7 linked regions of the Homo sapiens genome follow. The protein of the gene in region 6 purifies or fractionates together with the protein of the main gene of each other region. This does not show direct contact. Each region holds a gene or a part of one and is shown on either strand. Other genes may lie near its edges.

What was found.
Region 1: the proteins of MIDN (region 6) and MPRIP purify together in Homo sapiens (affinity purification with mass spectrometry, with the first as the bait; one large-scale study listed by BioGRID). This does not show direct contact.
Region 2: the proteins of MIDN (region 6) and PCMT1 purify together in Homo sapiens (affinity purification with mass spectrometry, with the first as the bait; one large-scale study listed by BioGRID). This does not show direct contact.
Region 3: the proteins of MIDN (region 6) and FAM133B purify together in Homo sapiens (affinity purification with mass spectrometry, with the first as the bait; one large-scale study listed by BioGRID). This does not show direct contact.
Region 4: the proteins of MIDN (region 6) and HNRNPA0 purify together in Homo sapiens (affinity purification with mass spectrometry, with the first as the bait; one large-scale study listed by BioGRID). This does not show direct contact.
Region 5: the proteins of MIDN (region 6) and HIGD1A purify together in Homo sapiens (affinity purification with mass spectrometry, with the first as the bait; one large-scale study listed by BioGRID). This does not show direct contact.
Region 7: the proteins of MIDN (region 6) and RALA purify together in Homo sapiens (affinity purification with mass spectrometry, with the first as the bait; one large-scale study listed by BioGRID). This does not show direct contact.

Annotation. Positions count from the first base shown.
Region 1 is NC_000017.11:17,048,957-17,052,456, forward strand, and holds part of MPRIP (myosin phosphatase Rho-interacting protein), read left to right. Parts: intron 1-3,500. UniProt on the Homo sapiens protein: Targets myosin phosphatase to the actin cytoskeleton. Required for the regulation of the actin cytoskeleton by RhoA and ROCK1.
Region 2 is NC_000006.12:149,805,241-149,808,740, reverse strand, and holds part of PCMT1 (protein-L-isoaspartate(D-aspartate) O-methyltransferase), read right to left. Parts: intron 3,439-3,500; exon of another isoform or gene 3,402-3,438; intron 1-3,401. UniProt on the Homo sapiens protein: Initiates the repair of damaged proteins by catalyzing methyl esterification of L-isoaspartyl and D-aspartyl residues produced by spontaneous isomerization and racemization of L-aspartyl and L-asparaginyl residues in aging peptides and proteins.
Region 3 is NC_000007.14:92,560,258-92,563,324, forward strand, and holds the end of FAM133B (protein FAM133B), read right to left. Parts: intron 2,112-3,067; coding exon 2,025-2,111; 3' UTR 501-2,024; downstream 1-500.
Region 4 is NC_000005.10:137,748,150-137,751,148, forward strand, and holds part of HNRNPA0 (heterogeneous nuclear ribonucleoprotein A0), read right to left. Parts: 3' UTR 1-2,999. UniProt on the Homo sapiens protein: mRNA-binding component of ribonucleosomes. Specifically binds AU-rich element (ARE)-containing mRNAs. Involved in post-transcriptional regulation of cytokines mRNAs.
Region 5 is NC_000003.12:42,787,491-42,790,990, forward strand, and holds part of HIGD1A (HIG1 domain family member 1A, mitochondrial), read right to left. Parts: intron 1-3,500. UniProt on the Homo sapiens protein: Proposed subunit of cytochrome c oxidase (COX, complex IV), which is the terminal component of the mitochondrial respiratory chain that catalyzes the reduction of oxygen to water. May play a role in the assembly of respiratory supercomplexes.
Region 6 is NC_000019.10:1,247,228-1,251,382, reverse strand, and holds the start of MIDN (midnolin), read right to left. Parts: upstream 2,801-4,155; 5' UTR 2,723-2,800; intron 1,496-2,722; exon of another isoform or gene 1,494-1,495; 5' UTR 1,087-1,493; coding exon 854-1,086; intron 1-853. UniProt on the Homo sapiens protein: Facilitates the ubiquitin-independent proteasomal degradation of stimulus-induced transcription factors such as FOSB, EGR1, NR4A1, and IRF4 to the proteasome for degradation. Promotes also the degradation of other substrates such as CBX4.
Region 7 is NC_000007.14:39,626,572-39,630,071, forward strand, and holds part of RALA (ras-related protein Ral-A precursor), read left to right. Parts: intron 1-3,500. UniProt on the Homo sapiens protein: Multifunctional GTPase involved in a variety of cellular processes including gene expression, cell migration, cell proliferation, oncogenic transformation and membrane trafficking.

The sequences.
Region 1 (3,500 bases), on a different chromosome or scaffold from region 6:
ATAAGCAAATCATAGTGTATCCATACCATGGAATATCATTCAGTTCTAAGAAGGAGCGAAGTACTGAGACATGCCACAACATGGACGAACCTAGAAAACATTGCGCTAAGAGGCAGACATGAAAGGTCATGTGTCACATACTGTGTGATTCCATTTATGTAAAATGTCCAAAACAGGTAAATCTGTAGAAACAGAAAGCAGATCGGTTGTTGCCAGAGCCTGAGGGTTGGGTGGGCAATGTGGAATGACTGCTAATGAGACTGGGGTTCTATTTTGGGGGTGATGAAATGTTTTGGAACTAGATAAAAGTGCTGGTTGCACAGCCTTGTGAAATGTACTAAATGCCCCTGAATTGTTCACTTCCAAATGCTTCTTGACTTATGATGGGACTTATGGTGGGGGTACATCCAGGTAAAACCCATCAGACCTATCACAAAGTCAAAATTATAAGTCAGGGACTGTCTGTACAAGAATCGCTCTCTCACACACACACACCTGCCTTCTGCTCCTTGTGTCACCTGGAGTGAATATCTGATTGTTTCTAGAGTCTAGACCAAGGCTTGGCAATTTTTTTTATAAAGGACTCTTCTTTTATCCTGGGGAACTCCTTCCCCAAGCCACTCTTTCCCACCTGAATGACACAGTTGGACCAGGTCGGTGGTTTTCAAGCTTTCATCAAATCCCGGAGCCTTTTACTCAAAAGAAATCTTGTATATTTTAGGTTTTGCAGGCCAACAGGCAAAATCGAGGAGGTTGTGTAGGATATAGCCACTTAAAAATGTAAAAGCCATTCTTGGTTTTGGGGTCTTAGAAAAGCAGCTGGTGGGCCAATTTGGCACAGGGGCACAGTGTGCCACCCCTCAGACCAGCCCTGTCCTCTAGAACTGTAATGGAAGCCACATAGGAAATTTTAAATTTTCCAGCGGCTACGTTAAAAAAGTAAAAAGAGGGGCCGGGTGCAGTGGCTCACGCCTGTAATTTCAGCACTTTGGGAGGCCGAGACGGGCGGATCACGAGGTCAGGAGATCAAGACCATCCTGGCTAACACAGTGAAACCCGTCTCTACTAAAAATACAATAAATTAGTCGGGGCCGGGCACAGTGGCTCACGCCTGCAATCCCAGCACTTTGGGAGGCCGAGGCGGGTGGATCACGAGGTCAGGAGATCGAGACCACGGTGAAACCCTGTCTCTACTAAAAATACAAAAAATTAATCGGGCGTGGTGGTGGGCGCCTGTAGTCCCAGCTACTCAGGAGGCTGAGGCAGGAGAATGGTGTGAACCCGGGAGGCGGAGCTTGCAGTGAGCTGAGATTGCGCCACTGCACTCCAGCCTGGGCAATAGAGTGAGACTCCGTCTCAAAAAAAAAAAAAAAAAAAAAGAGGTGAAATTAATTTTAATTATGTTTTATTTAACCAGATATATCCAAAATACTGTCATTACACCATGCAAAAAAGTTATGACGTGCGCATTTTACGTTACAGCACATTTCAGCTCAGACGAGCCACTTTCCCACTGCTTAGTAGCCTGGTGGTGTGGCCGCTGCCCGCAGTCCTGGTGGCAGCCCTGGGGTGCCACAGGTGGTGGTGAGTTTCCTCCGTCCCTCCCTTGGGCCTTGGGTTGGAAGGTTCCTGGAGTGCTGCTTCTCTGGGACTTGTTACTCCTGTTTGTGTCCCCACTCCTCCTTGGCCCTTGGTGTCTATTGCCAACTTTTGAAGTTTCTTTCTTTGACTATCACATCTTTGATGGCTTCTTTTGGTGTGTTAGAAGTTCTCTTCTGGGCTCTGATCCCCACTCCCTGCCCAGAGGCAGAGTTTAGGGGCAGAAGGGAGGAAGGTCCTTGCCAGGGCCTCAGGCCTGTCCTGTGGGGAGCCGGTGAGGGCCGTGGTGGGCAGGCTGGCGTATCCCCCTCTAAACTGGACGTGCAATGTTCCAGTATTATGTAATTGCACCCTAGCTTTTTTCCCTGGGTTCTAGCCTGTTACCTGATCTTTTCCTCTGATTTCTCTTTCCCTTGCCACACAGAAGGACTATAGTCCAAGGCCTATGTTCTCTTCCTGACACAAATGTGCAGGGTGACCCAGGAAGGTGACTTATGTCTCCCACCTGTAAAGCGGGTGCCTGCCTTCTCTTTGCAGAGTAGTGTGCTGATGGAATGGGGAGTTCCTGAGCCCCCCATGTGGTGAGGGATGTTCCAGGAAGCACGCTGGCTGCCGCCTCTGGGGGAAGTAGCCTTTCTTTGGGCAACCTCATGTTCTTTAGCAGAAATAAAGAAATTTAACTCAGAATGTTTAAATTGTTCCCAAGCTGCCACTTAGTCTTGAAAGAGGGAGAGAGTGTGGCAGCGAGGCACAGGGGAAGACATCCTACTACTGGACATGGAGGATCATTGGGTGCTAATTTGGAAGCATCTGACCTAAGAAAACGGGCTCTTCTCTTATCCTGGGAAACTCATTCCCCAAGCCACTCTTTCTCAGCTGAATGACACCGTTGGACCAGGTGGATGGTTTTCAAGCTTTCATCAAAAGCAGTGCAGCTCTGGGCAAGGCAGCCAAAGCCTGGAGCTTGGCCTCCCATCCTGGGGCGGGGTGGCGGGGGAGGGCCTTGGGTCATCTCTGGGGCCATTTGGGGCAGGTTCGAAAACTCTGCCCTAGATTTTGTGCTTTTTCCAGTTTTAGCAATTGAGGCAGTCTTACAGCTGCTCTGGAATGGAGCCCCCATGCCCTACCCAGAGCTCTCAAGGCATTGTCACTTCCGTTGGGGGCAAGAGCACCTAGGGGGTTGATTCACTGACATTTTGTCTCTGGAAGCTGGAACTGAAATCTTCCAAACCACTCACTGGTTTTCTCAGTCAGGGTCATCCTAGTTCACATGAAACCACAGCCTGGTTTTTGCCTGGAGCCTGTAACCCTTCTGGCTCCTTCCCCTTGGGCGCAGCTTGGCGGTTGCATGCTGTGCCAGAGGTGGCCCTGGTGTCAGAGCTGCTTTGCAGCGAGACTCTGAGTGGATGGGCCTGCCGGATCCTTTGAACCTCTACCTACTATATTGTGTCATAGCCCGTGATTTCACACAGACCTCAGCAGGCAAGGGTGGCCAGCAGGGCTGGTGGCAGCAAGGCCTCCCTCGGAGGAGGGGACCCTGAGTTTTCAGAGTGGTTGAGCGGCCTGCCCAAGGTCACTGAGCTGCTCAGCAATGGGGCCGTGATACAGATTTCAGCTCCATGAGGCTCCCGTGCCAGAGTCCACCCTGGCTCCAGACTCCACCCTGGCTCCAGACTCATCCTCCCTGTCCTTGGGAAGGCCACTTTGCTTTGTAAACTCCTTAGTGTTTTTGTTTGGCCCCGGGGCAGATGGGTAGTAGGGAGATTGGTATATTGCAGTGCTGCAGAATAAATCACAGCTGTTTCCTGGACTTCTAGTTCCTAGCCCTGGGAAGAGGGACCTGCTGGGGCTGTCTGCACCTGCCCTCCCTGCCTTTCCCCCACATTATGCAGGTGAGGGAT
Region 2 (3,500 bases), on a different chromosome or scaffold from region 6:
CGCTTAAACCAGGGAGGCGGAGGTTGCAGCAAGCTGAGATCACGCCACTGCACTCCAGCCTGAGCGACAGAGCGAGACTCCATCTCAGAAAACAATAATAATAATAATAATTTACTACAATTTACCTGCTGCAAGACATTAAGTATACTGTAAATAAATTAATGCCCCCTCAACAACATAGGTACCATTTTTCCAACTATCCTCTCTGTCTAAAAAATACTTTAAAAAAGGAAAAGAAATTAGGTTTATAGACCTGAATTTTAAAATTAGAGGTGCTAGGGAAAAACAAAAACTTGCTGCCAGCGCGTGCACAATTTTTTAAAAGCCTAATACTCTAAAATCCATGTAACTTTCAAGTTATTAAATTTTCCCCAATGTTCAAAATTCTGTATGACCATTTCTTTATCTGACTTACATGTATAGATCATTTACAATAAAAAATAGTATGTACTAAATTTTTAGAAAGGCTCTTTAAAATTGCTATATACTATGCTAAATATATTCATTAGGTTAATAACTGTATATATTTCTACTAGTATATAATTATACATAATTTAATTATTTATTAGATTTTATTAACTCTATGATACTAACATTTAGTCTTATACATTCTTTACCAAGAATAAATGAAAAGATATACTATAAGGAAACAACAATCAAAATCCATGAACGTTTTCTAATAATTTCATGGATCTTCCAAGGTAATAAAAGTGTTGTACAATTTGCTTTGTACGAAGCACTATGAGAGACAAAAAGAATTCCAAAAGTAACAGAATATATCCCTGCTTTTAAGGATGTAATGTATGTCACAATACTGGAACATATGTAAAGAGATTAAAAAGGAACAATATAGAATATGGAACACGGGATCAATTGGATCCCTTAGCACCAATACTGTCAGTCTTGGAAATGCAGTCAATTCCTAACATCTTTTTCATAGATGCAAGGCACTTTAAGAAGACATCAATAAACAAAGAGCTTATGGAATAATAAACTTGAACATTCCTCAGTTTCACAAACTAAAGATGGACCAATTACACTAACTCTTGTGACTACTAAAAACAAAAATAGTCTGGGTGTGGTGGCTCACACCTGTAATTCCAGCAGTTTTGGAGGCTGAGGCGGGTGGATCACTTGATGTCAGGAGTTTGAGACCAGCCTGGTCAACACAGTGAAACCCCGTCTCTACTAAAAATACAAAAATTAGCCGGGCCTCGTGGTGCGTGCCTGTAGTCCCAGCTATGCGGGAGGCTGAGGCAGGAGAATCACTTGAACCCAGGAGGCGGAGGTGCAGTGAGCCAAGATCGCATCACTGCACTCCAGCCTGGGTGACAGAGCAAGACTCTGTCTCAAAAATATCTATAAATAAATAAAAATAAAACTTTTACCAGAAGATTAACAAAATATTTTTACATATAAATTATTTATTTAAAATAAAATAATACTTAAGAACTATTAACTTTCTGTAGCAACTAATACAACTATTACATGTCCATAGTCATGAACACAATTCCACAGATTCTAGGTCTCTGGCCTATAGATCTGGCATTGTCTCCCCTTCTATTAATCCACCAAAATTACAAGTGACATCTTTCCAAGTGTAAAAAGACTCAAGTCTACATTCAAGTTTGGATCTTTACTTGGTACTAGAATTCCACATGTCCACTAATTCTCATTTTTAAAAATACAGTTTCTGCCACATCGCCTCAGCAAAAATGGGATCTCACCCTCATCAGAGCACCGCAATTAGCTCTGGATTATTCCTCAGTAAGAAAGGTGGAAAGCTGGTGAGACACAAGAGAAGGTTCCTAGGAAAGTATTATAATGAGTTAAAGTAATCCTGAAGAAAGTTTGAGGCTGGTGGCTCAAGCCTGTAATCCCAGCACTTTGGGAGGCTGAGGTGGGTGGAACGCTTGAGCTCAGGAGTCCGAGACCAGCCTGGGCAACATGGCAAAACCCCTTGTCTACAAAAAAAACAAGAAAATCAGCTGAGTATGGTGGCACACCCTGTGGTCCCAGCTACTCAGAAGGCTGAGGCAGGGGGGATCGCTTGAGCCCAGGAGGTTGAGGCTGCAGTGAGCAGAGATCATGCCACTGCACTCCAGCCTGGGTGACAGAGAGAGACTGTATCAAAACAAAACAAAATAAAACAAAACAAAAACAAAAACGGAAAGTTTGAAAGAACAGAAATCACGTAGCCTGGCAAGAAGTTGACTAGGGAACTTTTTAGATGATAATTCCCAGAAAACAGTGACAGTATTTTAGATGTAGCTATCCACCCACTTCTCTCTATCCTTACTAACACTGCCTTAATGCAGACCATCATTTCATCCTTGAATTGCTATAACCACTTCCTGTTTCTGACTCGACTTTTGTCCCTTCCCAGGCTAGTCTCTACATAACAGCTAGAGTTATCTTTCTGAAATGTAATTCTGACCACTTCAATGCCTGGCTCCCTACCGCGAGTCTGAACACTACCCTATAACTGCCTATTCATCTTGGTCTTTGCATCTCCTACGTTACTGTAAGCTCCATGAGAGCAGTCAGTTTCAAATTCACAGCTGATGACTCCTGGCACCTAGTACAGTGCCTGGCCTAGTTGGCATATGCATATTGGTTGAATTCACGAATAATATTAAGAAGATCCTCACGCTGAAAAATATTTAGCAACTGAACAAATGGCCAAAGAAAAGCATCTACAACAGAAAAATTAGAAAGTCCTCCTGGTACACCTGGAGAAATTTTTTTTTTTTCTGATAGTGCGAACATGTAAGTTTGCTCAATTTTTTTTTTTTTTTTTTGAGACAGAGTCTTACTCTGTCGCCAGGTTAGAGTACAGTGGCACAATGTAGGCTCAATGCAACCTCCACCTCCCAGGTTCAAGTGATTCTCCTGCCTCAGCCTCCCGAGTAGCTGGAATTACAGGTGCCTGCCACCACGCCCAGCTAATTTTTGTATTGTTTTTTTAGTAGAGATGGAGTTTCACCATGTTGGCCAGGATGGTCTCGATCTCCTGACCTCGTGATCCGCCCGCCTCAGCCTCCCAAAGTGCTGGGATTACAGGCGTGAGCCACTGTGCCCAGCCTAAATTTGTTCAATTTTTAAAAAACTTTGAAGGTCAAAAAGAAAACCAGGTATACATTTTTTGAGACGGAGTCTCGCTCTGTTGCCCAGGCTGGAGTGCAATGGCGCGATCTCAGCTCACTGCAAGCTCGGCCTCCCAGGTTCACGCCATTCTCCTGCTTCAGCCTCCCGAGTAGCTGGGACTAGAGGTACCTGCCACCACGCCCGGCTAATTTTTTTGTATTTTTAGGAGAGACGGGGTTTCGCCATGTTACCCAGGATGGTCTCGATCTCCTGACCTTGTGATCTGCCCGCCTTGGCCTCCCAAAGTGCTGGGATTACAGGCGTGAGCCACTGCGCCCAGCCTAAAAGCAGGTATACATTTAATGTTTAGCAGATGACTAATTGTCCATAAATTTAAAAATTATTCTAAATAT
Region 3 (3,067 bases), on a different chromosome or scaffold from region 6:
AAAATTATTCTGTCAAATTTTCTTTTCTTTCCATACTTTGTTAGGAGGCTGTTAAGGCTACCAACAGAGGACTAGAAAAAAGTGTTGCCCAGACAGTTAACACATTCTGGAAAGAATATAGTTTTTCACCAAATCACCTTCTTCCCCGTCTAATAAAATGAACAGTTGCTTCTAGTGGAATACAATCTTTATATACCTATTGGACTAGTCTGTAAACCTGCACTTCCATGTCGTAACAAAAGTGATGACCATGTAATCTGATCAACTTATCTTCTGGCATTTTCATGAACAACAATTCTAGGAAACTTCCTTTTGGATGCAAAATGTCCCTTGAATTTTCTGTGTATTCAAAAGCATACAGATATCTTTTATTAGGAAATAGCATGCAGCTTTGAGTATAAGAAACCAAGATATGTGTTTTTTTAATAGCTAAAAATTTAGGGACATGTCTTATCTATTTCCAGCTTAACATCTAGGAGTGTTTATCTTTGTAAGTTTACTTGCAGTCCAAAGGGAGCTGATAAGAACACAGCTATTTTTAAGTAAAATAGCTATTTATTCAGCCTGTTGTCATGCCAACATGTTCTGTGCATATACCACTATAATTAGCACACCCTTTGTAACAGGCAAAATTGTACATCAAGTTGTATGTCATGTTACCTGATTATATAAAAATGTAAAATGAAAATGAATTATCAATTCCTTTTAACATTCCTAGTAAACAATTCAGCAGTAGACATGAGGCACAAAATCTTAGTAAAATATGACACAGGGAGAGCAATAATGTAACTCTTATTTAAACTTAACTTGTCATAATTTGTTATTAATATACAAAGACAACAAACTTTTAAAACATTACATTTACTAAGATTCTGGCAATAAGACACAGCATACCAGGCTTGCCACTCAACTTGTTATTGTAAGTCTCAGCTTCAATATGAAGCCGTTTTTTTTTTTTAATCAAAACCCTGCTTTTTACATGCTAAATATCTTGGCAAGTAGGCCATTAAACATAGTAATGAACTTAAGACAGCAAGAGTGAGGAGTTAACAAAAGCTAAACATTGCAGCCTAAACAAAATTCATACAAAAAAATAAACTATCACTAGTTACATAAAATTTTCCTGACTGGTTAAAACTTAGTATAAAACATGCATTTTAGAATCTTTAGCTATCAAGTTCAAAAAGTACCAATGTCTATTTAAAATAATTCCTCTCCCAAGCCAAAGTGTAGTCAAAATTAATTCAAATGACATAACACATTCTAATGCTAAAAAATATTCATTATTACTAAAGTGGAGGTAAATCCCAGAGCTTTTGGGGCTTTCTCATGCTGCAAATGGCTGTTTCTCTGGTTCACTCAAAGCAGCATATGACAGCATCCAAAGATGACACTAAGCTCAGTAAAGGGCAAGACTGCTGGTAGCCAGCTCTGACCTCCCCGTGAAGCATGGCTACTGTGTCCATAATACAGGATGTGTGAGGATCAAAGGCACACTATTCTGCTAGCTAAAGAGATAGCAAACCACCCCCCAACCCTAAAAGCTCCTTCCCCAGGTAAATAAAAGTATACGAGGGGAAAAAATTAAAATACACTTATCTACAGAGTAAGGGTTTTGAAATATTAATGTAATCCCTCCTTCAAAAATTCTAACTAGAGTCATCTGGTCATTTCTGATTACATCTTAAAGATGTATCCAGATTCAATTTCTGTTGGTTTATCCTTAGACGCTTCTAGTCAAAAGTATTAATTTTATTCCCAAATATCTTAACCACTAGTACGACTGCAGTGTATTATCTCCCAGAGTTATCAAGCACTGGAAGAGAAAAAAATAGATGTTCAAGCAGCAGGCAACATTTATGGCCCTTTCACACAGTGGCATCTGAGTGGCTACTGAATAGTCCAGGAATAATTCCAAAAACAAGAAAATTCATGCATTTTAGTAAATATGTTGTAGTTTTCACAGTTGAAATTTCCTCAGACATTGCACTTTCTTTATAAGGGAATCCTGATTTTTCTTAATGTTATGGTGAGTCAGGACTTGAACTAGCAGCCTTCTTTTTCTTCTTCTTACTGTGTTTCTTATGCTTCTTTTTCTTTTTTGTTTTTTCCTGTAAAGATAATTCCATGTTAGACATTACTATATAAAAATACGCAAATTAAAAGCATCTTTACCATGCTTCTAAGCTACCACATAATTCCAAACAATCCACACAACCAAGAAAACTACTCAAAACATTCCTCAAAAAGTCTCAACAACCAGTATCATATGAGGACTAAAACAGTTCTTGTCGATTTTCAAAAAGATAGGGAGAAACTCTTAAGTCATTAGCATATTAACATAACTTCTAACAAAATTTCCTGTAGGAAATAAATTCAATTGAATCATGCTACCAATCACTATTATTTCATGCTATATAACTTCTAAAGGTAAAGTAATTGCAGTTACTGGAATGGAGTAACCAAATAAAAACATAATTGTTTTTGTAAAATAGTTTTCAGACAGAACAGAGATATTAAATTTGCCAGTTTTAAGTAAATAGGTACACAGGCATTGTGTACTGCTCAGACTGGCAGCACTACTTGAAGTTGCTGTCATTAATTATTAAATTATTAAATTAAAATCAACTAATTAGTACAAAGTATCAATGTATAGTTAAAAAGTCTACTTTGTTAAGCAAAACAGATGTCTGATTTTTAGAAGAAAATGCCACTAATGCCCGGTAGAAGTAGTTAAACTGTGAGTGGATTGAAGGGAGCTGGAGTTTTGCTGAAGTCTGACTCTCCTATTTTTGTTATAGAACGCAGAACTTTTAGAAACACAGATACTTGGAAAGGTGGTACCAAATGAGAGACTGCTGCTAGTGTACTGATATTCAAGAGAAGAAAATGAAAAGCAAAAAAGAAGAGACCTATAAGGATGGTAACAGCAGAGCTTCCTATCCATTTCCTATCTATCAGCACTATCTACTCTCCCCTCTCTCAAAGGCCTCTACCACTCTGTGGCACTAAGCTAATTTTCAACATTCTTTTCTCACTACATGTTTGAAGTACATAGGGAATATTA
Region 4 (2,999 bases), on a different chromosome or scaffold from region 6:
CTGTCCTCCACCTAAAATGCCCTCTTTCTCCTCCCACCTTCTCTATAAGACCTATCTTTTAAGGTTAAATGTTATATGCTCCACAATGCCTCTCTTGATCCTTCTTCCTACCTGAAGTCACCTCTCCTCAACACTCACATTATTTATACCTTCCTAATATTAACAAATACTTAAAACATTACAGATGGCTAGCAGAATTCATCTCTCTCCTACTAGAGTTGAAGCAGCAGTGATTTAGAGAACTACCACATGGAAGCTCACCCAGCAAGTAAAGAGCAAAGCCTAAAGACCATGCATATCTCGGGTACTAAGATATAAAAGTATGCCTTTTGCTAGTCTGTCCCACCTCTTCATTAGGGGCCATATAGTAAAATTACTGTGTACCAGAGACTACAGTAAGCCCTTCTTTATATGCATTCTTTCACTGAATCTGCCCAACAATCCTATGTAGCAGGTATTACCATAGCCTATTTTTTTACAAATAAGGCAAGTGAGGCTCGGGCCAGTTTGTCCAAGGTCGCAGTGCTAGAAAGTGACTGTGTCAGGAACAGAATTTGGTCTATTGGATGCCCAAATTTACGTCCTTAAGGGCTATGAAATATTAAATCAGATACCCACTATGAAGCAAATTACATTTGCAACGTAAGCATCAAAGACAAAATACACCTTTGATTTCTAAAAAGTAATCAATTAAGGAGAAAAGAGTCTTAATTTTCATCAGAGAATGTACATTCAATGACAATGGAGCTAACTCCAATTTTGATGGTGTGAACAATATGAGATTGTGACACAATGCTGTAAAGGAAAAGATGCATCATCTCAAAATAAATTGAATTCCCATTTCAAAATAAATTGAATTCCAACCAGAACGCAAGGTATATGAAGACAGCAACCATGTTTGTCTCACTGCTGTGTACCTCCACATTATAGAACTGTCTTACACAAAGGTGCCTAACACCCAATGAAATTGACGGTAAACACTGGGAAATAAGCACACTGTTTAAATGGCAAAAGTTTACACTTGAGAACTTTATAGCAGGAAATGATAGCTATTTCAGATAGATTTTTTAAGTAAACCATACAAAGTGGTAAAAGAATTAAAGAGACAAAGAAAGCCTGCCTGAATAGAGAAGGAAACAGTTAAGAATAACTACCAAAGGTGTCTTCCTGAATCCTTTCCCTCTCTGAAGGTTCAAATCATCTGGCTTCAAATCAAAGTAAAAAAAATAGGTGGAAAATAGAGAATTGCCCTTCTAGTCTTCCTACTTTGGAATTCCTTTTTAAATAGCAGCTTTCAAATATCTTTTTATAATAAATGTTTTACCTTGTAACATTTAAATTCTCATTCAAGGCAAATATGAAGTTCACTCAAAAGCAGGACAGCTAAGGAGTTATTTGACTAGGCAGTCTTTGTTGCTGTTTCAAAAGGCCAAAATAAGGCTGAGGAGGAAAATTTCCCCAATGATCACTCTTAAAGTGATTCAATAAATTGGTTACGATGGAGAAAGACACTTAGCCTAAGTGCAAGTGCTGTCTTTTTGGGTAAAATCCGTGTAGTCTAGATGCAGTTCTGCTCCAAATCCAACATCCAAATGCCTATCTGCAATCAGCAGACGCGGGCAGACAAAATTTAACCTAAAATGCAAACTCTCAAAACTTAAGCACACTTAAAAGGTAAACTAAGTTTACAAATCCAATAACTGATACCATCACTTCTGGTTTTGAAGGAAATCATAAATGCAAATTTCTCAAGTATCCTCAATCTTTTAGGTTTACTTAAAAATTATGAAAATTAGATTTGAATATGAAACGTTCCAAATCACTAAGTTAAAAATGGATGAATGGGTACAATCAGTATAGTCATTCTGATTTGATAGTTATCACTGTGAACCTTAACCACTTGCAGGCTTTTTTTTGGATACAGTAAATCAGTACCAATGAGAGCTTTTTAAATGACCTGAAAAACACTACAGATATTCCAATCAAAAAATCTAAAATGCTCCAAAATCCGAAATTTTTTGAGTGCAGACATGACATTCAAAGGAAATGCTCATTGAAGCAGTTTGGATTTTACATTTTTGTATGAGAGCTGCTCAGCTGGTAAACATAATGGAAATATTCAAAAATTGAAAAAAATCTAAAACTCAAAACACTTCTGGGCCCAAGAATTTCAGATAAGGAATACTCAACCTGTATCATCTCTAACAGCCTTTCAAACCACTTTCAACTAATGACTACTGAATTTATACTTTTAAAAGAATGTAAATGCCAAAGATCTTCACATTAAGATGAAAAATAGGAGGTTCACTTTTATTTTGCTAATCCGTCAAAATACATTCAAGCATGGCACAAAAATTATATTCAACACTAGGTTCTGTACCACCTGCTCCCATGAACTCTTAAATCTGAATAATGTTCAGATAATTTTCATAGGTGGAAGTGGTCAAAACATACAACCAATTGTCCCTCCTCCCCAAGTCCCACATGCCAAAATGTTTGCATATAAACTGACAAGAGGAACCCAGAAGTGACTAAATACCACTATGCTTTTTTCTTCACTACAAATAGCAATTTTAAGGGTAGACACATGACAATGAAGTGTTAATATACCATGAACAGAACAGGTTGCCTTCCTAATACACAGAAAATCCTTTTACATAATTCATTTGCAAACTTTAGAAGCCACTATATTCCCATGTTGGGAATAATATGACAACCTTATTAAACTGAAAACCCTGAGAAAGGTGTACTATTCCAATTGACCCAGATCTTCCCACCAAAACTGAGTAAGTCAAGCAGAGTAGTATTTAACAATTACAACGAAAAATTTCAGAGAATCATTTTCTGTATCCTAGAGGCCACTCTACAGCCACCAAAAAGCTGGACCAAATTACCAAATGAAGTAGCCCACATGTAATTTGTGTATCACTAGAATTAAAAAATAAGACAGAAATGTATGGAAAGTGTACAACTATTTGAGAGCAAAGGATTTGACTATG
Region 5 (3,500 bases), on a different chromosome or scaffold from region 6:
CTGAGGCAGGAGAATGCTTGAACCTGGGAGGCGGAGGTTGCAGTGAGCCGAGATCACACCACTGCACTCCAGCCTGGGCGACAGAGCGAGACTCCATCTCAAAAATATATATATATATATATATATATATAAATTTTTAAAGTCATAAAACTTTAAAATAATCTAATATAGCAGCAAAATAAATAAATGGAGCAAAAATTGTTAGGAACACAAGATTAGCTCTATTAGAAGACAACAAAATGGGAAAATCTGTCTCTTTCAGAAAACAACAGAATAAGAAGCCCCAAACTAAAGCTACAGAATTGCACGGCACCATTAAATAAACTTACTTAAATTCTTAAAAATAAATAAAATTTAATATTTTAATTTAAAACAGAGATCCCACATTCTTTAAAATGTCTATGAAGCTTTGACAAAACCAATCATTTATTAGGCCACAAAGAAAATTCCAACTTCCAAAAAGTCCTTCTTCCTGGATGACTACCATAAGGCCAAAACTTAGCAATCAAAACGTAAAACAACCACACACATACCCCCACCTCTAACCACTGAGAAGCTGAGCACCAATAACTAGATTTGGAGGTTAAAGTAAAAACTGAGAGATTAGGAAGCTATCAAACATTATTTGAAAAATAAAAACAGTACTGGTTCTTAGAACAAATAAAATTGTAAAACCTCTAGGAAGTCTGATCAAAGAGAAAATAAACATACGACATTAGGAATGAGGAAGTGGATATAATCACAAGTGATAAAGAGATTTTTAAAAATAAGAGATGATTGCTCTTTGCCAATTAAATTTGAAAATCTAGGTGAAATGAATGATTTCTGAGGAGAATACAAATTCCTAAATTTGATTCAAGAAGTTGTAGAAAACCTTTCTATACCAATAACCATAGAAAGAATTAAATGGGCAATCCATGCTTTATCCCCAAAAGATAAAGACCCCAATAGTTTCATTAACAAGGTCTAATAAAAATTATAAGGGCATTCTCAATTCATGTTATTTAAAGTATTCCAGGGCATTAAAAACATAGCAATACATTTTTTTCCAATATATTTTCCAAGAAAACAAATCCCTGATACCAAAACAAAATTAAGATAACATAAGAGGCTGGGTGCAGTGGCTCACACCTGTAATCCAAGCACTTTGGGAGGCCGAGGCAGGTGAATCACTTGAAAACAGGAGTTCGAGACTAGCCTGGCCAAAATGGTGAAACCCCGTCTCTACTAAAAACACAAAAATCAGCCTGGTGTGGTGGCGGGAGTAGTCCCAGCTACTCAGGAAGCTGAGGTAGGAGAATCACTTGAACCCAGGAGGCAGAGGCTGCAGTGAGCCGAGATCCTGCCACTGCACTCCAGCCTGGGCGACAGAGCGGGACTGTCTCCAAAAACTAAAAAATAAAAAAAAAAGCCATGAGAAGAGAATTACAAAGCAATATAAATTATAAACATAGATATAAAATTCCTAAACCAAATACTAGCTTATCAACTTTAAAATGTATTAGAATAATATTATCAACCATGATCATTAGGTTTTTACTTTGGGAATTTTTTTTTTTTTTTTTTTTGAGACGGAGTCTTGTTCTGTCACCCAGGCTGGAGTGCAGTGGTGCAATCTCCGCTCACTGCAACCTCCGACTCCTGAGTTCAAGTGATTCTCCTGCCCCAGCTTCCCGAGTAGCTGGGATTACAGGAATGTGCCAACCACACCCGGCTAATTTTTGTATTTTTAGTAGAGATGGGGTTTCCCCACATTGGTCAGGCTGGTCTCGAACTCCTGACCTCATGATCTGCCTGCCTCAGCCTCCCAAAAAAGTGCTGGGATTATAGGTGTGAACCACTGTGCCTGGCCTACTTTGGGAATTAACCATTGCTTTTACATAAGAAAATCTTGGCCAGGAGCAGTGGCTCATCCCTGTAATCCTAGCACTTTGGGAGGCTGAGGTAGGAGGATTGCTTGAGGCCAAGGGTTTGAGACCAGCATGGGCAACAGAGTGAGACCTGTGTCTACAAAAAAAAAAAATTTTAATAAAAAATAAATTAAAAAAAAGAATTCACTGGAAGAACATCCAAGAACAAAAAAAAAAACGAAAAATCTCTTAAGATTCACGAAAGATGAAACTATGTGAACATCTGAATAGTAAAAGTAAATTAGAATATAGTTCAGACACCAAAAGCAAATACAAATTGTACTTAGTGTTAAAACACTATAAATATTCCATTTTTAATTTTTATCTATTTATTTATTTATTTAGAGACAGGGTCTTGCTCTGTCACCCAGGCTGTAGTGGCATGATCATGGTTCACCACAGCTTCGACCTCCCAGGCTCAAGCAAACTCCCATCTCAGCCTCCCAAGTAGCTGGGACTACAGGCGTGTGGCACCATGCCCAGCTAATTTTTAAATTTTTTTTGTAGAGACAGGGTCTCACTGTGTTGCCCAGGCTGTCTTGAACTCCTAGGCTCAAGTGATCCTCCTGCCTCAGCCCCGCAAAGCACTGGGATTACAGGAATGAGCCAAAGTGCTCAGCCTTATTTTTTATTAAAAAACGAAAAAGAGATAAGAAAAAAAAGTTCCCTTTAAAGATCAGAATAAGACAGGGATACATGTGAATACTGCTGTTGTTGCCTGGATATCCTAAACAATTTTAAATCACATAAAAAAAACTATACGCATAATTAGGAAGAAACTCTACTGGTTTGCAGATCATCTAACTGTGTGTATAGGAAATCCAAGAGAATCAAATGAAACACAACTAGAGGCCAGGTGCAGTGGCTCACGCCTGTAATCCCAGTACTTTGGGAGGCTGAGGCAGGTGGATCATTTGAGGTCAGGAATTCGAGACCAACCTGGCCAACATGGCAAAACCCTGTCTCTACTAAAACTACAAAAATTAGCCAGGTATGGTGGCAGGCGCCTGTAATACCAGCTACTCGGGAGGCTGAGGCACAAGAATTGCTTGAACCCGGGAGGCGGAGGTTGCAGTAAGCTGAGATTGTGCCACTGCACTCCAGCCTGAGCGACAGAGCAAGACTCCGTCTCGAAAGAAAGAAAGAAAAACAACTAGAACCAATAAGAAAAAAGATTACTTTGATGAATACATTAAAAAGCATATCTAGAGAAATTAAATTTCTAGACCTAGAGAAAACAATAAAATCATATTTAAGGACACAAAAGGTTTGAATGAAAATCAGTAGATGCACCACATTCTAAAATTTCCATTCTCTCCAAATTTATAAATTCAATGTAATCCAAATGTAAAAATGAGACATTTTTCCCGTTTTGGACTGGGCAAGCCAGTTTCTTTTTCTTTTCTCTCTTTTTTTCAGACACGGCGTCTTCCTATGTTTCCCAGACTAGAGTTCAGTGGGTATTCGCAGGCATGATCATTATACACTACAGCCCTGAACTCCTGGGCTCAAGTGACGCTCCTGCCTTGGCCTGCTGAGTAGCTGCAATTAACAAGCTAATTTCAAAGTAAACAGGCAAGCTCTTTTTAA
Region 6 (4,155 bases):
GGGAGCCCCATCCTGGCGATTCGGACCCCTTCCCTCCAGTGGAACCCCCGCCCTGGACTCTGGCACCCCCTCTGCACCCCAACCAGGCACTTTCTCCTCCTCTGGGCCCCAGTGTGCTCTATGCCACCTTCCCCCACGACCCCAGGGCAGCCCCTGCCCCCAATTCCCTAATTCTAGTCCTGGCTCCTCTTTGTAGGAACCACGGGTTTCGGCCCGAGGAGAGGCCCTGGGGGTTGCGCCGGGCCGGGCTCCCCCTCCTCCTCCCTCCCCGGCGCAGGCGGCCGCCGCCGCGCAGACAAAGGAGACCCTCCCCCTCCGCCCCTCCCCCGATGGGCCCCTCCACTGGGATGGACACTGCGTGTCCCCGGAGGCCCGCGGGGGGAGGGCTCCGGGCCTGCAGGCGATTTAAATACCAGGGGGGAGGGGAGGCTGCGGGGAGCGCTCGGAGGCGAGAACAAAGGGGGGGAGAGAGACGCAAGTGGGGGGAGACAGCCAGACGCAGAGGAGGCCGCCGAGCAGATGCGGAAGCCGGCGCGGACGCAGGCGGGAGGGGGCGGTGGCGGCCCCCACACCCGCAGCCGGGACCCCCGCAACGCCCTGGGATTCCTGCCCGCCCCCAAGGGGGGCCGCCGAAGCCCGGCCCGGGACGCCCTCGCAGCCGCCTTTGTGCGGCGACCCCGGGCGGGGGAGGGGGCCGAGGCAGGCGAGGCCGAGCAGAGGGCGCCCGAGAGCGCGCGGCGCGCCCCCGCCCCCTGTCTGGCCGCCCCCTGCCTTCCCCGCGCGGCGCGCTCTTTGTTCCCGCCCGGGGGCCGGGGCCCGAGGGGGCGGCCGGCCGGGGGCGCGCGGTACCTACGTGTCTTTGTGGAGAAGAGCCAGGCGCTCCTTGGGCACTTTGAGGCGCTGGGACAACCGCTTGCGCAGCCCCTCCACCGTCTCGTCGGGCGGCACGGCCAGGTCGTAGCGGGTGCCCGTGGTGCTGTGGATGGCGAGGCTCATGGGCGCCGCCTCGGCCGCCGGGCCCAGCTCGCAGGCGCCGCCGGGGGCCCCGCGCCGGCAGCTCCGGGCGCCGCCGGGCTGCGGCTCCATCCCCGGCGCGCGCTGGGGGGCTGGGGGCGGCGGGCGCCGCCAATCCTCGCCGCGCCTCCGGGACAGGGGCGAGAGGCTCCCCGGATGCCGGGTCCTCCGGGCACTCGGGGGCGCGGAGCAGCGCGCGTCCTCCTCGAGAAAGTCCCGGCCGCGGAATGCGAGACCGAAATCCAAAATCCGAGTGGCGCTCCGAGGTCGCTCCGGCTCCTGGGGGCGCCTTCCGGGGGTGGGGACGGCACTTGCTTCTCCTTCAAAGGGCGGCGGGCGCGACCGGGACGCGGCGCGGTTAAGGGTCCTGGGGAGGGGGCGCCGCTCGGCTGGTGGCGCTGGGTGCCGTCTGCCGCCCGGGTCGCGCTTCCTCGCGCGTCCCCTCCCTTAGCAACAGCCGTCGCCGCCGCTCGGAGGATCTGGGGGTGAAAGTAACAAGAAAAAAAAGTTATAATGTATCAACGTTCCAGGGGGCGGGGCCGCCGCCCCCTCCCATTCACTACTTACTCCGCCGGCCGGGCGCCGGCCAATCGCCGCGCGCCGAGCGCCCAGTCGGCCGCGAGCCCGGGCCTATGAGAGCCGCCGCGGCACCGCCCCACGTGGCAGCCGGGCCCGCCCCCTCGCCCCGCCCCCAGCGCCCAGGCGACCAAGGGGAGCGCAGCGGGGGCGGGGCTGGCGCCTCTCCGCGCCCGCCCCCGCCCCGCCCGCGCCCGCAGCCATTCATAAGCGCCCGGAGCCCGCAACAAAGGGCGGGCGCGCCCCGGGGGGCGCGGGACCCAGGTCTGGAGACGGGTCTGGTACCCCTCGCGATCCCAAGGGAGCGGCCGGGAGCGGGAGGGGGCGCGGGCCATTGTTCCCGGCGCCGGGAGGGGCAGGAAGTCGTGGGGCCACCCCGCCGCCTTCGTCCGGGAAAAGCCGCGAGCGGAAGCGGGAGCGCGAAGTCCGCGCCTCGTGGCCGGGGTCCCGGGGCGGGCGGGCGACGGTGAGGCTAGGGCCGCGGCCCCGGGGAGGGCGTGGTGCGTGGGGGCGGAGTTGTGGCCGGGGCGGGGCGCCCGCACCTCGGTGACGTGGCCGGGTGGCTGCCGCCGGGGGCCCCGCGCGCCCACCCGCCGGCCGCGGGCAGAACCCGTTTCCCCGAGGCGCGCCCGCTCGAGCCGTGACGTGACGCGGCGTCCCCGGCTGCGCCCGCGCGCGCTCGGGGATGCGGTGAGTCAGCAGCTCGGGCGCGCCCTCTGCCGGGCCCGCCTGGGAGCGCCGCCCGGAGTCCCGGGGAGGGGGCGCCGCGCTGCCCCTGGCAGGGGAGGAAGACGACTGGGCTGCGCGCGGGGGAGGAACCCCGATCGGGAACGAAAGACTGTAGTCGGGAGACTGGGACCGTGTGGCTGGGCAACGGAGGGCGGAACGGCAACCAGTTCAAGGTCACCCGCGGTGAAGGGGGAGTGCCCCGGGGGGCGGGGCGGGGGCTGAGGTCCGGCCAGGGCGGCGCTGGCTGCGCGGAGCCCCTCCCACCCCGCACCCCGGGGGGCTTCCCAGGACCGGAGGCTCCCCGATCCCTCCTGTCCCAAGAACAAAGAAAAGTGCGGGCATCCTGAGCCATCTAGAGTGGGCACCCTTCCTCGGCCCGCAGGTCCCCCCCCTCCACACTCACCGGGCGCGGCCGGTTCTGCGCTCCAAGTGCTGCGAGTACCTTCGTCCGGGGCCGAATGCGCGCTGGCCGGGCCGGTCTGGGCCAAGCGCGCGGCCCTCAGCCTTTATCCGCGCCGCCTTCCCTCGGGGTGGAGTTAGGGCGGGCAGGGGGGCGGGGGGCCGGGCGGGCGGTGACGCAGACTGGCCCCCGCCCCTGCCTGCCGGCCCTGGCCCTGGGGCGCCTTGACGGCTGGGCCACCCGGGACCCAGGCTTGGCGCAGTTCATGGGGGGACTCCCCTTGAATGCCCCGAGCCAAGGGTCTCGGCCCGCCTCGCCGCGGGCTGAGATGCACCCCGAATCGTCAGCGGGACAGGGTTTTGGGGTGTACAGCGCGACTCGCTGCCCCGCCCCCTTCCTGTCGCCCCAGGCCCGGTGCTTCCGCCTGGGGGCGCCCGCGTGGGGGGGACGGGAAGAGGGGCCTGAGTCAGCGGCTGTCGTCCAGGAAAACAGGCTGGAGTCACCTGCCGTAGAGTGGGGGTGCCCTGGCCAGCCCTGGCCTCCTGCATCTGTCAATGGTGACCTCAGAGGGCATTTATGGAGCGATTAGCCAGTGCCAGGCCTGCCTTGTGCCCAGCCAGTCACCAGCCGGCTATGCTGTGACCCCGGGAGGTAACTGGCCTCTCCAAGCCTCAGTTTCTCCAGGGTGGGTGGGAGTGTGGTGAGGGGATGCGGCAGGATCACTTTGGGGCCATCACCCCCCATTAATGCAGGACATGCACTGGTTCCCAGCCTTTGGGGTGGGCATTACCCCATTTTACAGATGAAGAAACTGAGGCCACAGCCAATGAGACACGAATGTGGTGTGCATCTCACCCTTCCCCGTCGGCTTTTTGAGGATGGTCCTGGTTGAGGTGGGCCCCGTCCTGCCCCTCTATTTAGAGAAGGGGACCCCATTCCTACGGGAGCACCTCCTGTCCACTCATCTGGCCCCTCCCTTTATCTGGCCTGACCACCTCCACCCCCACCCTGGCCATGGGCGCCCCTCCCAGGGCTGCGCTCCTCCCCAGGTCTCCTTCCGGCTGCCACCCATGCTCCCGGCAGCCGTGGCCCCCACCTTGACAGGCACACCCAGCCCCGAAGGGTCAGGGCTAGGCCAGAGAGGGAGAGGCTGGGATAACCCTTGGAAGGGGGTCACAGGGGCTGCGGTTTGAGGAATGACTAGGAGTTTGTCACATAAAAAAGATGATGCGGTCGGGCGCGGTGGCTCACGCCTGTAATCCCAGCACTTTGGGAGGCCGAGGCGGGCGGATCACAAGGTCAAGAGATTGAGACCAGCCTGGCCAACATGGTGAAACCCTGTCTCTACTAAAAATACAAAAATTAGCTGGGCATGGTGGCATGTGTCTGTAGTCCCAGCTACTCAGGAGGCTGAGGCAGGAGAATCGCTTGAACGC
Region 7 (3,500 bases), on a different chromosome or scaffold from region 6:
TCTCTTTTATCTTCAGCGTGCCTACAAATACAGTGTTATCACCGTCCATGTGTGCCATGATGGAAAAATGGTTGGGCATTTTTCCCGTGGGTGTCCCGGTAAAGTATTTGGACTCAATTCTGGTGTTTGATTAGTGCTTTTTAAAGTAACAGAATCGTCCCTATTTGAGAGGAATACCATAAATCTATTTGTAGTGACCTTTCCTTGAAATCACATTTTTTTTAGTTCGTTCTTTCACTAATGGAAATGGGGGAGAAGCTATGGGGGACAGTAGAAAGAATGGTAAAAGAAGCAGAGATGTGCTTGGTCTGTTTTTAACCGTTTGAGACCATTAATCATTTTCTCTGGGTTTAAGATGGAGGCTTAAAAGTGGCAGAAGTCTTGTAAGGGTTTAGCTGCTATTCAGTGCTGGTAGAATTCTCTTCCCTCCTAAGCCTGTGCACTTTTTAAAATGCACTTTTAAATAGGCTTAATTTGAAGAATGTGTCCATCTCTCTCTCTCTCTCTTTTTTTTTTTTAAAAGATGTACCCTTAAGTAAAAAACAGCTGATTGTCTGGCCCCCATAAGTAACAGTTATTCTGTTTTTTCTTTAAGACATCTTTCTTATTACCTTATCGCATTCATAAGGATTTGGGTTGCCGTATAGAAAAAAAGAAATTAAAGTTCTATGGGTTTCTAAAATATGTATGAGTAAATTTTAGGTGAGAATTTGCATCTTTGATTTAATTATACGTGAAGGTGATGACTTAGTTTCTGAAAGTCAAGAGGGTAGTCTTTACAAGCCAAAAAAGGCATGCTTCCATAAAATTATACTATTCTTAAAGGCCTTCACAGCTAGGGTCCTATATTAGATGCAATAGATGTAACACTGACATACATAGTCTCCTTAAAGTCTGGGATCCAATTTTATTGCTGAATTTACTTTTGAAACTAAATGTCAGGGTTTGGTAATGTTATTTTGGACAATAAGACATAGTTAGATTATAAAATGGCGTATACTCCCAGATTTATTGGGAAGGTGGGCAAAGATCCCCCAGTTTCCAAAAGTTATGATTATGGTCATCTAAGCCACAGGATCTGTTTTCTTATGTAGTTGAGAAGCTAACATAGTACTCCATTAAAAGTGGAGGTTGCCACACTGCGTGACCAAACACTGAGTTCAGCTGCCCTGTCTAGATATTCTGGATTACTACAGCAGCCTTCTAGCCTATGGTTGGAACCCATCTGATACTTTTCCCATTCTTGCTTAGAACAATGGTGATATTTCTCTGCTTAAAATCCTCTTGTGGCTCTTTTTTGCCCATTAATAAAATTCAAACTCCATTTATCCTTAATCTCATATACAAAACCTTCAAGATGTGCTCCTTACCTAACTCTCTTTTTTCCCCTTTATCTTTCATATTTTTCATTTTTTTTCTTACCTAACCCTTTAGCCTTATCTCTCTTCTTGGATGATCTTTTGTTCTACCAATACCCAGCTTCTGGAATGCTAGTGTTTGTTTACTCAGTCCTCCATTTCCTCTTCCTGGAATTCTAGCCTCTCTTCCTTCCCCTAATCTAGTATACTCCTACTGGTCCTTCAGAACTCAGTTTAGGTTATAATTCTCCAAAAAATTACAATTAGGTTCTCTCTCTGGATCCCATCCCTCAAAAAACAAAAAACAAAAAACCTTTAAGACTGGGCTGATTGCTTCTCTTATGTGCTGTCATAATATCTGTTACAGCTCTTAACTACACTGGAGAGAGTACTTTCATTAGCCTATTGTAAATTTTGTTGACAGCAGTCCACAGTAACCTCATAACTACACACACACACACACACACACACACACACACACACATTCTTTCTCTCTCTTAAAGGCCTTCTTCGTAGGCCTTTATCAGTCAAGTGCCCAAACTTTCTCAATTCATGGCACCCTTATTATCGCAGTAATTTTTTTCACAGCATCCCTAGGTCAAAAGAAACACCTAACAGTTTAATTTTTTTGTTTTTTGTTTTTTGAGACGGAGTCTCGCTCTTTCACCCGTGCTGGAGTGCAGTGGCGCGATTTCGGCTCACTGCCGCCTCCACCTCCCAGGTTCAAGCAATTCTCCTGCCTCAGCCTCCCGAGTAGCTGGGATTACAGGCACGCGGCACCATGCCTGGCTAATTTTTTGTATTTTTAGTAGAGACGGGGTTTCACCATGCTGGCCAGGCTGGTCTCGAACTCCTGACCTCGTGAGCCATGTGCCTCAGCCTCCCAAAGTGCTGGGATTACAGGCGTCAGCAACCATGCCTGGCCAGTTTAATTTATTAAGTAATTAGGTCTGAACAACTTAATAAGTATGTATCTCCTAACAAGTCAGTAGCTGTGTGAAAAGATAAAATACATAAACTAAAATCAGTAACTTTCATTCTTAACTGCTATCGTGTATGTACCATAGTTTTCTCGACTAATGTCCTGTTTGAACATTTAAGTAATATCTAATATTTTGCAATTACAAATGATGTTACAGTGAAAAACTTTGTGTACATGTATCTTTGTATTGTTGGAGAGATACATCTTCAGGATAAATGCATATGTAGAGTTGTTAGGTACTGTCAAACTCCTCATCCTGTGGGGTTATACTATTTTGCATTCCTACCAGCAGTGTATGAGAGTAGAGTGCTTATTTCCTCACAGCCTCACCAGCAGTGTTTTGTCAGCTTTTGAATTTGTGCTGATCTAATAGGTAAGAAATTGTATCTCAGTGTATTTTCCATTTGTACTTCTATTACAAGTGAATTGAACATGTTTTCATATGTTTAAGGGTCATTTTAATATTTATTTTTATTGTTCATATTATTTGCTCACTTTCTTTTCTTTTCTTTTTCCTTTTTGAGATGGAGTTTCGCTCTGTCGCCCAGGCTGGAGTGCAGTGGCACGATCTCTGCTCACTGCAACCTCTGCCTCCCAGGTTCAAGCGATTCTCCTGCCTCAGCCTCCTGAGTAGCTGGGATTACAGGTGCACGCCACCACGCCTAGCACGTTTTTGTATGTGTGTATGTATTTATTTATTTATTTTGAGATGGGGTCTCACTCTGCCAGGCTGGAGTACAGTGGCGCCATCTCAGCTCACTGCAACCTCTGCCTCCTAGGTTCAAGCGATTTTCCTGCCTCAGCCTCCCGAGTAGCTGGGACTACAGGCGCGTGCCACCACGCCTGGCTAATTTTTTGTACTTTTAGTAGAGATGGGGTTTCACCGTGTTAGCCAGGATGGTCTCGATCTCCTGACCTCGTGATCCACCTGCCTCGGCCTCCAAAAGTGTTGGGATTACAGGCATGAGCCACCGTGCCTGACCCTAATTTTGTATTTTTAGTAGAGATGGGGTTTCACCATGTTGGTCAGGCTGGTCTCAAACTCCTGACCTCGTGATCCGTCCACCTCAGCCTCCCCAAGTGCTAGGATTACAGGCGTGAGCCACCATGCCGAGCTTTCTTTTACTTTTTTTCTTTTTTTTGAGACAGAGTCTTGCTGG